Linked DNA regions of Homo sapiens. The protein of the gene in region 2 purifies or fractionates together with the protein of the main gene of each other region. This does not show direct contact. Each region holds a gene or a part of one and is shown on either strand. Other genes may lie near its edges.

Region 1 (3,653 bases), on a different chromosome or scaffold from region 2:
TTTCAGGTGAACTGATTTTTCAGGGTCAGAGGCTTCTTTGAATTTTATAGCTGTTTGTGCTCGGTTGCATTTGCTGTCTTTCAAAACCATCTTTAGTTTTAGTAAGGAAAGTCACTATAAAGGAAAAATTTTTTATTGTTACCATTCCTGGTAGATTTTCTGAAATATTAGATATTTCTTTGCTTTCATCAAGTAAAATAGGCCTATTTGATACCCATTTCAAGATCTTCCTTCTGCTGCCTGTCTTGTGGTCATTTAACTTCTCATTAAGCCCTCCACTGGAGACTGTGCCAGAAGGGAGAGAAGATGAAAAGCAAATGAATCATTTTCTAATTGTTAGTAGCTCTGGAAAATGATTCAGTAGAAGAGATTGAAACTATTCTGGAAATTCTTTGGGATTGTATTTCATTCATCTGCATCGTTTCAGAGATGTTCCTAATGGTCGTCAATTCAGAATTCAGAAGCCGATCATTATCCAGCTATTGGATAACAGGGAATTTTTCATGCTTTTTTTTTGTTTGTTTGTTTCTTGCTGTATTTAAGCATCTCCACAGAAGATATTTAGAAGCAGGTAGAGATAAAATTTAAACTAATCAATACTGTTTTTTCCCTTTGAACTCTTTAATGCACAATTTGATTTCTTTAGACAGTTTACTCATTGTTATTGGAAGTGACTAATAGTAACTTTGCTTCAATTTATTTTGATGTATCTTATACACAAGTATAGGAAGGCTTTTGGGTGGTTTTTAAGAAACATGGGCTGTAGATTCCCATAATTGCTTTCCTGAATTATTAAGCGTGAGCTTTCATTACATCTTTGTACCGGAACTTTTGCTTTTGCTGTGGAACAGATTCAGGGACATCGTCTAATTTTTTTTTTTTTTTTTTTAGATAACTGCTCAAGAAGTTACCTTGTTTTGATTTAGCAGTAAAAAAGAAAAAAAGGGTTAATAGTGGACAGACTTTTCGTTAACGGCTGCAACATTGATGTCTGCTTTTTTCCTTGTCTTTGATCTTCTGTTTCTCATTTAATCATTTGGATATTCACGGATTGGAGTTCTTTATGTCACTACAGACAGGACAGCAACCGTTATTCACACTAGTTGAATGGGTTCCTGCCTTTTTTTGGTGGGGGGGCCTCAGGAGAATTTTTACAAACCCATTATGACTGTTTAGTTAGGCTGAGTTACTGTAAAATTTGTAAATAAAACCCTACTGGATGGATAGGGTTAATAGATGGCTATAGAGAGTTTAAAGTTAAGCTTTTTCAATTTCTTGTCTCTTGGATTCTGTTCTTTCAATTTCTACCCTAGGAGGGGATTTATGGAAAAATCTAGACTAAGAGTCAGAACATGCAAGTTCTTATCTAGTTACTTCCCAGCTGTGGCGCCCTCAGCTAGTCACTTAATCTGCCTTGTTTCTCTGTTTTGCATCTTTAAGATGAGGATAGTAATCCCTGCTCGGCCTACTGGTATCAGGAATGTTGTAGGGGGAAAAAAAGTCTTTCATGCCCCTGTCTATTAAATTGTTTCTTCCTTCTAGAATCCCTTCTCAGGTTGTCCGAATTTTCTTTCAAGGATTCAACTGAATGGGCTCTTCCCAGAAGTCCTCTATTTCCCATTTGAAATCTTGCTTTTCCCCTCTCACGGGCCTCTGCTGGTCCATCTGTTATACAGCACTTTGAATTCTGTTCTGTACTTCAGTCATTGCATGTTGCCTTCCATTATAGATGGAAAGCTCCATGAGGGCAAAGATTGTCTTTTTCCTCTTTCTGTGTGTCCGCATTGCACATAGGCACCCCCTCCACTCCATAGGTGACCCACAATAATTGTTGGCTGAATGAATGATTATTGAGGCTGTCAGAATGAATACTTTGGGTGATGGGAAAATGCCAAAGATGAGCATCTTACCAGAACTTTTGGATGAGTGGCCTTTTAAATTGCTCAGTTACTAATCTGTTGTTATCAGTAACTGAATCAGATCCTGGCAAGACAAATTGGCAAAGCCCATTTCTTGGTCCTGTTTACTTCGGATACTATTTGTGAAGCAAGTCAGAGGAATGAAAGACTGTCATAACAGTCTTGAATTTGACATTTGTTCCATTTCTCACCCCATAGCATGTGGAGGCCTGTCTATATCCAACTGCTGAGTGTAAAGAATAAAAACTGACTGCCCCATAGTCTGGTCCACATTTTAGTTGTGTGCTTTGAAGGATTTGCAAGGTAGAGAAATAGATGCTTCAGGCTCTGATTTCAGCCCATGCTGTGCTATGCAAATGTTCTCTACATGCCTGAGTGACCTTTTGAGAAAGAGCCTTTGTGATCTTCTGTAGCTAGGGCTTGTTCTGGGAATTCTGTGCCAGATTCCTCTAAAAGTGGGAAAAGTGAATCTGTTAAAGGACCACGTAAAAAAGCCAGTGCTTTTCCTGGATGAATACCAATAAGTCCATGTTTCTTACCATGTCTTGCCAGAGCTTTAGAAATTTGCTCTGCAGTTTGCTTTACAGGTTGATTTGGGATTGAAGTGTGTGAGAGGGAACTGACTAAGGCAGTTCAGTAGCTGGGAAACTGTTTGTTTAAATGCTTTTGAATTGTAGATAAAAATAAATTCACATTGGCATCATTAGTATCTGAGCATTTCTCAGTGTCTTAAGGCTGGCTCTCCATGAGTGCTGGCTGATTGACTCTCATCTATATCGGTAAGGTTCTTTTTGCCCCAAATTGTGCTCTTTAACACTTCGGCATTTAAATCACTTTCTATTTGTTTTAATTGTACAAAGAGAAATACATCATTATTTAAAAGCATCATCTTTTTTTTTTATATTGTAAGATAAATACCATTCTGATGTATTTCTCTTGGAAAGGGATGCTGGTATCCTGGGAGGTTTATGATTTTTGATGTTTTTACTCAGGTGATTGGCTTGTATAGCTGAAATGCTGATGAAAAGGAGTTTTCCCTTCTCCCTTTTTCTTTTCTTTTCTTTTTTTTTTTTTTTTTGAGATGGAGTCTCGCACTGTTGCAGGGGCTGGTGTGCAGTGGCACAGTCTCGGCTCACTGCAACCTCCGCCTCTCGGGTTCAAGTGATGCTCCTGCCTCAGCCTCCTGAATAGCTAGGATTACAGGTGCCCACCACCACGCCCAGCTAATTTTTTGTATTTTTAGTAGAGATGGGGTTTCACTATGTTGGGCAGTCTGGTCTTGAACTCCTGACCTGGTGATCCTCCTGCCTCAGCCTCCCAAAGTGCTGGGATTATAGGCATGAGCCACTGCGCCCAGCCTGTCCCTTTTTCTTAAATGACCTTTTTGGTGAGGACCATTATAGGTTTGTACCAGGATAAGGTTGTAGAGTTAATCATAATATTCTCTTATATAAATTCTAAAAATTGATGTTCTAAGAAGAGAGGTAGAATTTGAATGACTGGGTTACTTCCTAGACTCTTCCTCCTTCTCTTAAGTACAGTATAGTTCTTTCTCTGAAAATCTTCAGTCTCTTAGTTCCAGATGGGTTCTCTATGGTAAGAATACAGGACATGTAGAAGGCCCTAGGGGAATGCTTTCTTCCCCAGATCTTTGCCCTGTAGTAGGTTTCAGCTGAGCAAGGACGAGTAGTTTTTCTGGTGTTTGGCCTCCTCTGTTGGGTGGAAAAAGACTTT
Region 2 (3,653 bases):
CAGAGAGGCAGGTAGGTATGGTACATGTCTGCTCAGCTGAGAAAGTCAACAAGACCCCGGAGCAAGCAGAAACTAAGGCAGGTGGCGTTAGCTCAACAAGGACAAGAGCTTTCTAGTAACGCGTTATCTGAGAATGGAAAGGAAGCCTGGTGGACAGTGAGTTTCCTTTCACTAAGTGTCTGGGTTGAAGCTGGGTGCTCTCTTGCTCTGGGTGCTGTAGCGTTAATGGATCAAGCTGAGGATGACCCTAAATAACCTCTAAAGACCCCTTTTCCTCCAGATTCTTATCTGGGTCCTCACATATCTAAGCAATATTCACTGGTCGTCACACACAAGGAAACTAAAACTCACCAAACAGAAAATACTTGCAGGAAAACACGAAGGGAAATCAATGGGCAAAGAGAAACTGGCTGCCTCAACGACTCCTCCCCTTGCCGGTACTCACAGAGCTCACTGCACTGGCAGAAAATGTTTGCGTCTCCCTCACAGAACAAGCTTAGCACAGGGCAAAGCGGCATTAAGTAGGATGGGCTGTGCCAGGAGTGGAGGGGCATCCTGGCACACCATACCAGAATCTGGGAGTTGGGCCTCCAGTAGGCAGGGGCGATCTGGTCTGTCAGCCAGGAAGTCACAGCCTTGGTGGGTCCAAGGCTAAGCTCGGACACCGACTGAGCCATGAAGTTCATCCCGTCCAACAGGCGCTGGGCAGCATTGTTGTTGTCCTTCAGAAACCCATCAGTCTGAAATGAAAACGCAGGCTTCCATCATGCTCTGAGAAGGGAGTGAAAGGAAGGAGGAAGAGGGATGTTTGGTGAGTTGCACACTCACCGTGGCCAACTCAGAACCACTAACTCCCTGGCAGGGAAGAACGGAGACACACCAGGAATCCCTCTGGCTTTATTCTCTTCAAAGTGACCATAAGACTTGATGTGTAGCTGTTCAATTCAGGACTTACTAAGCCCATATAATACAGGAGATGACACCTCCTCCAGGGGGCCCCGCACCGCAGGCTGAGTTAAGAACCTTTCCTCTCAGTTCTTCTAATACTTGGACATCTCTAGGAATCCTATTTCTGTGTGTCTAAGTACAATATCCATTTAGGTATCTGACTTCCCTATTAAACTCTGAACTCCCTGACAATAACTCTTTGTCATTTTTGTATTTTGTAAAGTAACTAGCTCAGTGCTGGGCACAAGGTACACAACAATGTATGCTGAATAATGAATGAAGGAAGGAAGGAAGGAAGGAGCAAACAAACAGCAGGGAAGGCATCTGTATCCTCCTAATTTCGAGGACTGTGAAGAATGTGACCTGAGAGTAAATTACTGCAGTCCTGTTTTCCTGGAACATAAACTATCTTACCACCTTTACTTTCTCGCTATAAGGCCACGTTAAATCCTTGGGACATAATGGAATAAACCATTATGCCAAGGAGGTGGGCTCCCATAATGAGACTACTATATAATAACAGATTTCAGTGGGCCAGAAAATTAGAAAAAGGAGGAGAAAAATAAGGAAATCGGCCGGGTGCGATGGCTCACGCCTGTAATCCCAGCATTTTGGGAGGCCGAGGTAGGTGGATCACAAGGTCAAGAGATCGAGACCATCCTGGCCAACATGGTGAAACCCTGTCTCTACTAAAAATACAAAAATTAGCTGGGTGTGGTAGCACGCGCCTGTAATCCCAGCTACTCGGGAGGCTGAGGCAGGAGAATTGCTTGAACCCAGGAGGTGGAGGTTGCAGTTAGCCGAGATCACACCACTGCACTCCAGCCTGGGTGACAGAGCAAGACTCCATCTCAAAAAAAAAAAAAAAAAGTTTAAAAAATAAGGAAATCTTCAGTTTTATGGTACCTATAGGATCCAGGAAAGCTCAGGAGAGGACCTGCAGGTAGAACTCCTAGGCTGAACGGTGGCTTTAGGAATCACCCAGCGAGGACAATGACACAGAGTAAAATAAGTCCCTCAGGGATAATCACTTGCCTTTTTTCCATGAAAGGAAAAGGTTTTGGATTTGTTGTGATTTATGGACAATGCTAAGTGTGAACAGTGATTTAATGCAGAATGAAAGCATGATATCACTGCCTCACAAACAGATTTGTATTTCTGACATCTGGAATTCAAAAGTTAAAAAATAATCATTAAACTGGGCGCGGTGGCTCACGCCCATAATCCCAGCCCTTTGGGAGGCCGAGGTGGGCAGGTCACCTGAGGTCGGGAGTTTGAAACCAGCCTGACCAACATGGAGAAACCCTGTCTTTACTGAAAATACAAAATTAGCCGGGCGTGGCGGTCGTGCCTGTAATCCCAGCTACTCGGGAAGCTGAGGCAGGAGAATCACTTGAACCCGGGAGGTGGAGATTGCAGTGAGCCAAGAGAGCCAAGATCTCACCATTGCACTTCAGCCTGGGGAACAAGAGCGAAACTCCGTCTCAAAAAAAAAAAGATTAAGCGTCTATAGGAATCCCACTTCTTAGAATATACTTCAAGAAAATTTCCTATAACAAAAAAATGGCTTTCTTACACGAAGATGGTGACTAGCATTTTAATGATCTTTTTAAAAAGGTGGAAATAAAACTAAATAAAATAGCATTGTGAGGAAAAAAAGCAGGAAAAAGGCATGTAAATATTTGCATCTAGAAAAACATACACATATAGAAAATGAATGAGTAGAACATGCAAAAACGTTTTATTTGCCAAAGGAGTAAAACTATAGATTTTTAGTTTATTTCATTTAAAGTTGTACTTCTAATATATATGCAAGAAAAAATAAAAACAATTTTGGTCTAGAGAACAAAAAAGCTCTCCAGATCATGCCTTTCTAAACCGCCAACATTCTGAAATTCATGGTTAACCTTAATTTTAAGCAGGTTCCAGTTTTCTATACACATGAAAAACTGAACGACACAAGATAAAGAAAAACAGAGAAATCCAACAGTTCTTACTCCAGGCCACACATGCACAATCTCTGTCCGCACCACCGTATCCACAGGATCTTGGTTTCCAAACCAGTACTGCCGACTACGATAGACCACGCCACAGTTAGGACATTCGATCACATACCTACAAGGAAAGCAAATCAATACTGTTACCCAGCCAGGTGCCTGGGGAGACAAACGCACCAGAAAACCTTGAGCCATGTTGTTTAAACTCACCCAGACCAGGCATATTTTGCGAGACCCATCCAGGGGGAGTCAGTGGAAGCAGATGTTTTGGGCACTACACTGACTTCCTCGCCTCTCTCATAGCAGGCCTGAAACAGGAAACACTCTGCTAGCTTATTGTTTGTTTTTTGTTTGTTTTTTTAATAGACACGGGGTTTTACCAGCCCAGGCTGGTTGTGAACTCCTGGGCTCAAGCAATCTGCCCGATCTCAGGAGTTCGAGATCAGCCTGGCCAACATGGTGAAACCCTGTCTCTACTAAAAATACAAAAATTAGCTGGGCATGGTGGCACACATCTGTAATCCCAGCTACTCAGGAGGCTCAGGCAGGAGAATTGCTGCAGCCCAGGAGGTGGAGGTTGCAGTAAGCCAAGATTGTGCCACTGCACTCCAGCCTGGCTGACAGAGCAAGACTCTGTCTCAAAAAAAAAAAAAAAAAAAAAAAAAAAAAAGAATGAATGTTCGATATAAATTACCCTTACATACAAGC
Region 3 (3,653 bases), on a different chromosome or scaffold from region 2:
AATTACTTCATATTTAGGTAGTGTTTTTAACTTCCCAAAACACTTAGACATACATGCAATGATCCAATTAGGTTGTTTAGTTTTCTCTACAAATTAACAGTCGGCACAGGACCGTTGTAGATATACACCCCTTTTATCCCATAGTCACCATCTTGAAGCTCTGGGTTAACTGCAAAGTTCTGTCAAGATTGTTCCCTGGAGAGAACGTCATACCACAGAAAAACATCCTCTGAAAATCTAGCTTTGCAGGCATTTAGTTGGGATTGCCTTTTGAACTTTGAATACATACCCATTAATTATTCTCTCTCTGAAGCAGCTTGTAACTGTAGTCTTTGTAAGGAGCAAAGGTCAGCTTGAAACTATTTTGATTTACTTGTTTATTGATCTCAACCAAGAATTCCTTTATTTGAAACTCTTCCCTTAGGAAGTCAATTTGATAACCTTAGCCCATTCATTTTGAAGGTGTCAGTTATAAGTAGTCTTGCCAATGAGTAATGGAGGAGCTAAAATTACTAATAAATTAATTAGAATGCATTTATAAACCTAGTGGAAAGCCATGTACGAAGTTGCTTTTTTATTGATTATTATACCAGTCATTAACTGCTGAGAAAATTCCCCTGTAGCAAGCAGAGAACATTGGCCAATTCGTTTGGTAATTGTAGGATTCTGTCAATAAGCTTTCAATATTTTGGAAAGTAATTACTCATTCACTCCAACCATTCACAATGTGTGGACAAAGTGGTTGGGCATTTTGGGGCAAGACTAAGGATTTAAGCAGACATTAACTTCCATATAAGATTCTCTCTTGTCGCTCAGTGCTACTTTAAGTCATGTGCGGTCTATATATATACTTATAACAAGTATTCTTAGATGTTAATATGCTGGTCTACACAGATTTGTATCAAAGTGCTTGAATATTGTGGTAGGGAAACCCTTGGAGAAAACCCTCTACCTGGGGTCTCTAACGCCAAGATGCCATATACAGCCATGTTTTATTTTCATAAGAAGCAAGTATAATTAGGAGATTATAGCCACTGCTTTTCAGTGAGTGAGAAATGTTCTGTGGCTGTTTCCCTTTCAAGAGTCAGGTGCCTGTCAGCAATGCTGGAGGAGAATAGGTAGTATCTGTAAATTATTGTTCAAAGATTCCTGGCTATCAATATCCCAAGTTAAGTAAAAGAACATTGGCCAGGTGCAGTGGCTCACACCTGTAATCCCAGCACTTTGGGAGGCTGAGGTGGGCAGATCACAAGGTCAGGAGATCGAGACCATCCTGGCTAACACGGTGAAACCCCATCTGTACTAAAAATACAAAAAATTACCTGGGCATGGTGGCACATGCCTGTAGTCCCAGCTGCTTGGGAGACTGAGGCAGGAGAATCGCTTGAACCTGGGAGGTGGAGGTTATAGTGAGCCGAGATTGCGCCACTGCACTCCAGCCTGGGCAGCAGAGTGAGACTCTGTCTCCGAAATAAATAAATAAATAAATAAATAAACAAACAAACAAACATTATGATGACATGGCATCACAGAACACTAATTTCTACACTAAGAGAGATAATAAAAGGGGTCAGATACCCAGATACCAATAATGCCACCCTCTCCACTGCAGTCTCTCCCTGATTGTATGTATAGGAGATCTGTAAATCAAGGAAAGTGCCCTGTAGTCTGTCTCCTATTATGGAATGAGTTTTGCTGGGTCCAGGAGATTTCCACCAGCTCCAGAAACTAGAGACAATTGTGCTAATAATGCCTGGCATCCTGGCTTTGTGACTGACCAGTCTTGGTCTTTTCGTGTCTTATAACTTGAATCTGAAGCACCATAAGATGGTCCTGCACGAATCAAGGGCATGGCCCTTGTTTTAAGGATTGTTATTGCCATTTTTTCCAATTAAAAAACCAAGGCCCAGAGAAGAACTAGGTTATTTTATCAAGGTTACAGAGTTAGTAATGTATGCTGGAAATTGCTAAAAGTATATATTTTAAGTGCTCTCCCACACCAAAAAGAAAAACCAAAAACTATATGAGAAGATGGATGTGTTAATTTGCTTCAGTGTAGTAATCATTTCACTGTGTTTAATTATTTCACTGTGTTATATGTATATCAAAACATGATGTTGTATGCTTTAAATACACAGTTGTCCCTCAATATATGCAGGGAATCGGTTCCAGGAATCTCAGATATACCAAACTTCGTTCATATTGCACAATTCCTGCAGTTGGCCTTGCAGAACCCATGTATGTGAAAAGTCGACCCTCTGGGGCTTTACATCTTGAGAATAAAAATCCAGCTATAAGTGGACCCTCACAGTTCAAACCCATGTTGTTCAAGACTCAAGTGTATACAATTTTTATTTTTAATAAATGTTACAGAGTTAGTTAAGGATCAAATAAAAATCGAGCGATTCTAGTCTGGCATTCTTTCCACTAAATCTTTTGGAAATACTAGACAGGATACTGATTCAATAAAAATTTCACTTTACCATATCAAGAAAAGGACAATAGGGGACAAAATAATTAATAATATTGTCTAGTCTCTCTTTACATAGAAGAGAAAGGTGATAATTAGTGGTTAAATACTAAAAATATATAATAAAAATAATGAATCAAAGCTGTATCTATGAAGCTGTGCCAGTCTGTAACTTTTAATGGTTGATGGCAACTTTTGGGGTTATTCTATTGAAATGAGAACAACAGGTAGAAATTACTATGTTCTTTACTAGAACGTAAGTCCCTTGACAACAGGGACCAAACCCTAAAATTTAAAGGTCAAGAAAGCCAAAGCAGCCTCTCCTGCCTGTAACATGTGAAAAAAAATGACAGTACTTAACTTTCCCTTCGCTTGTGCCTACCAGCCTGAAGAACTTAATTTATAGATCCTCAAGAGATATTCAAGTATGATTGTTTTCTTCTTTATTTAGTTGTCTGTTTTGATGCCAAGATAAACTTTGATGACAACGCAGAATTCCGACAAAAAGACATATTTGCTATGGACGACAAATCAGAGAATGAGCCCATTGAAAATGAAGCTGCCAAATATGATCTAAAATACATAGGACTAGATGGGAACATTGCCTGCTTTGGTAAGAAGCAGTTATATCAAAAGAATGCTTTGTGGATTCTTATAGAATTTAGGAAACCTTGATTTCTGAAATGTCACTTACCAAGAAGAAGTAAGCACATAAGTTTTTTTGTAGCTGAAAAGTCTTAGGAAAGTATCCAAGTTTCTTCTCAAAGTTGTTTTGATTAATGGTCACTGGTGTAAAGCAGAATTTCTCAACTCTGGCACTATTGGGAGTTTGGGTGGGATAATTCTTTACTGTCCTGTACATCATAAGATGTTTAGCATCCTAACCTCTAGATACTACTAACAACCCCCACTTGTGAAGACAAATAAACCCATGTAAATCAATAAATTAAAATAAATGTCTTCAGACAGTTCCAAATGGCTGTGGTATGCAAAAATCACCCCAACTGAGAAATATTGACTTAAAACATCTCAGTTAAACTTTGCTTAGTAAAAAATTAGAACCTTTGCTGCTCAACTCAGTATTAATATGCAGAACTCTTCTGAAATTTAGGTTTAAAACAAAATTCCTTTATCAGAGGAAATAGAAGAGGACATACACTTTAATCACGTTGCTAAAGTTTCA

What was found.
Region 1: the proteins of ZFYVE1 (region 2) and KCTD6 purify together in Homo sapiens (affinity purification with mass spectrometry; 2 studies listed by BioGRID and IntAct, with this or other methods). This does not show direct contact.
Region 3: the proteins of ZFYVE1 (region 2) and SUCLG2 purify together in Homo sapiens (affinity purification with mass spectrometry; 2 studies listed by BioGRID). This does not show direct contact.

The regions. Positions count from the first base shown.
Region 1 is NC_000003.12:58,495,003-58,498,655, forward strand, and holds part of KCTD6 (BTB/POZ domain-containing protein KCTD6), read left to right. Parts: intron 1-3,362; exon of another isoform or gene 3,363-3,653. UniProt on the Homo sapiens protein: Probable substrate-specific adapter of a BCR (BTB-CUL3-RBX1) E3 ubiquitin-protein ligase complex mediating the ubiquitination and subsequent proteasomal degradation of target proteins.
Region 2 is NC_000014.9:72,974,982-72,978,634, forward strand, and holds part of ZFYVE1 (zinc finger FYVE domain-containing protein 1), read right to left. Parts: intron 3,254-3,653; coding exon 3,156-3,253; intron 3,064-3,155; coding exon 2,946-3,063; intron 741-2,945; coding exon 570-740; intron 1-569. UniProt on the Homo sapiens protein: Plays a role in the formation of lipid droplets (LDs) which are storage organelles at the center of lipid and energy homeostasis. Regulates the morphology, size and distribution of LDs.
Region 3 is NC_000003.12:67,497,564-67,501,216, reverse strand, and holds part of SUCLG2 (succinate--CoA ligase [GDP-forming] subunit beta, mitochondrial isoform 2 precursor), read left to right. Parts: intron 1-2,921; coding exon 2,922-3,083; intron 3,084-3,653. UniProt on the Homo sapiens protein: GTP-specific succinyl-CoA synthetase functions in the citric acid cycle (TCA), coupling the hydrolysis of succinyl-CoA to the synthesis of GTP and thus represents the only step of substrate-level phosphorylation in the TCA.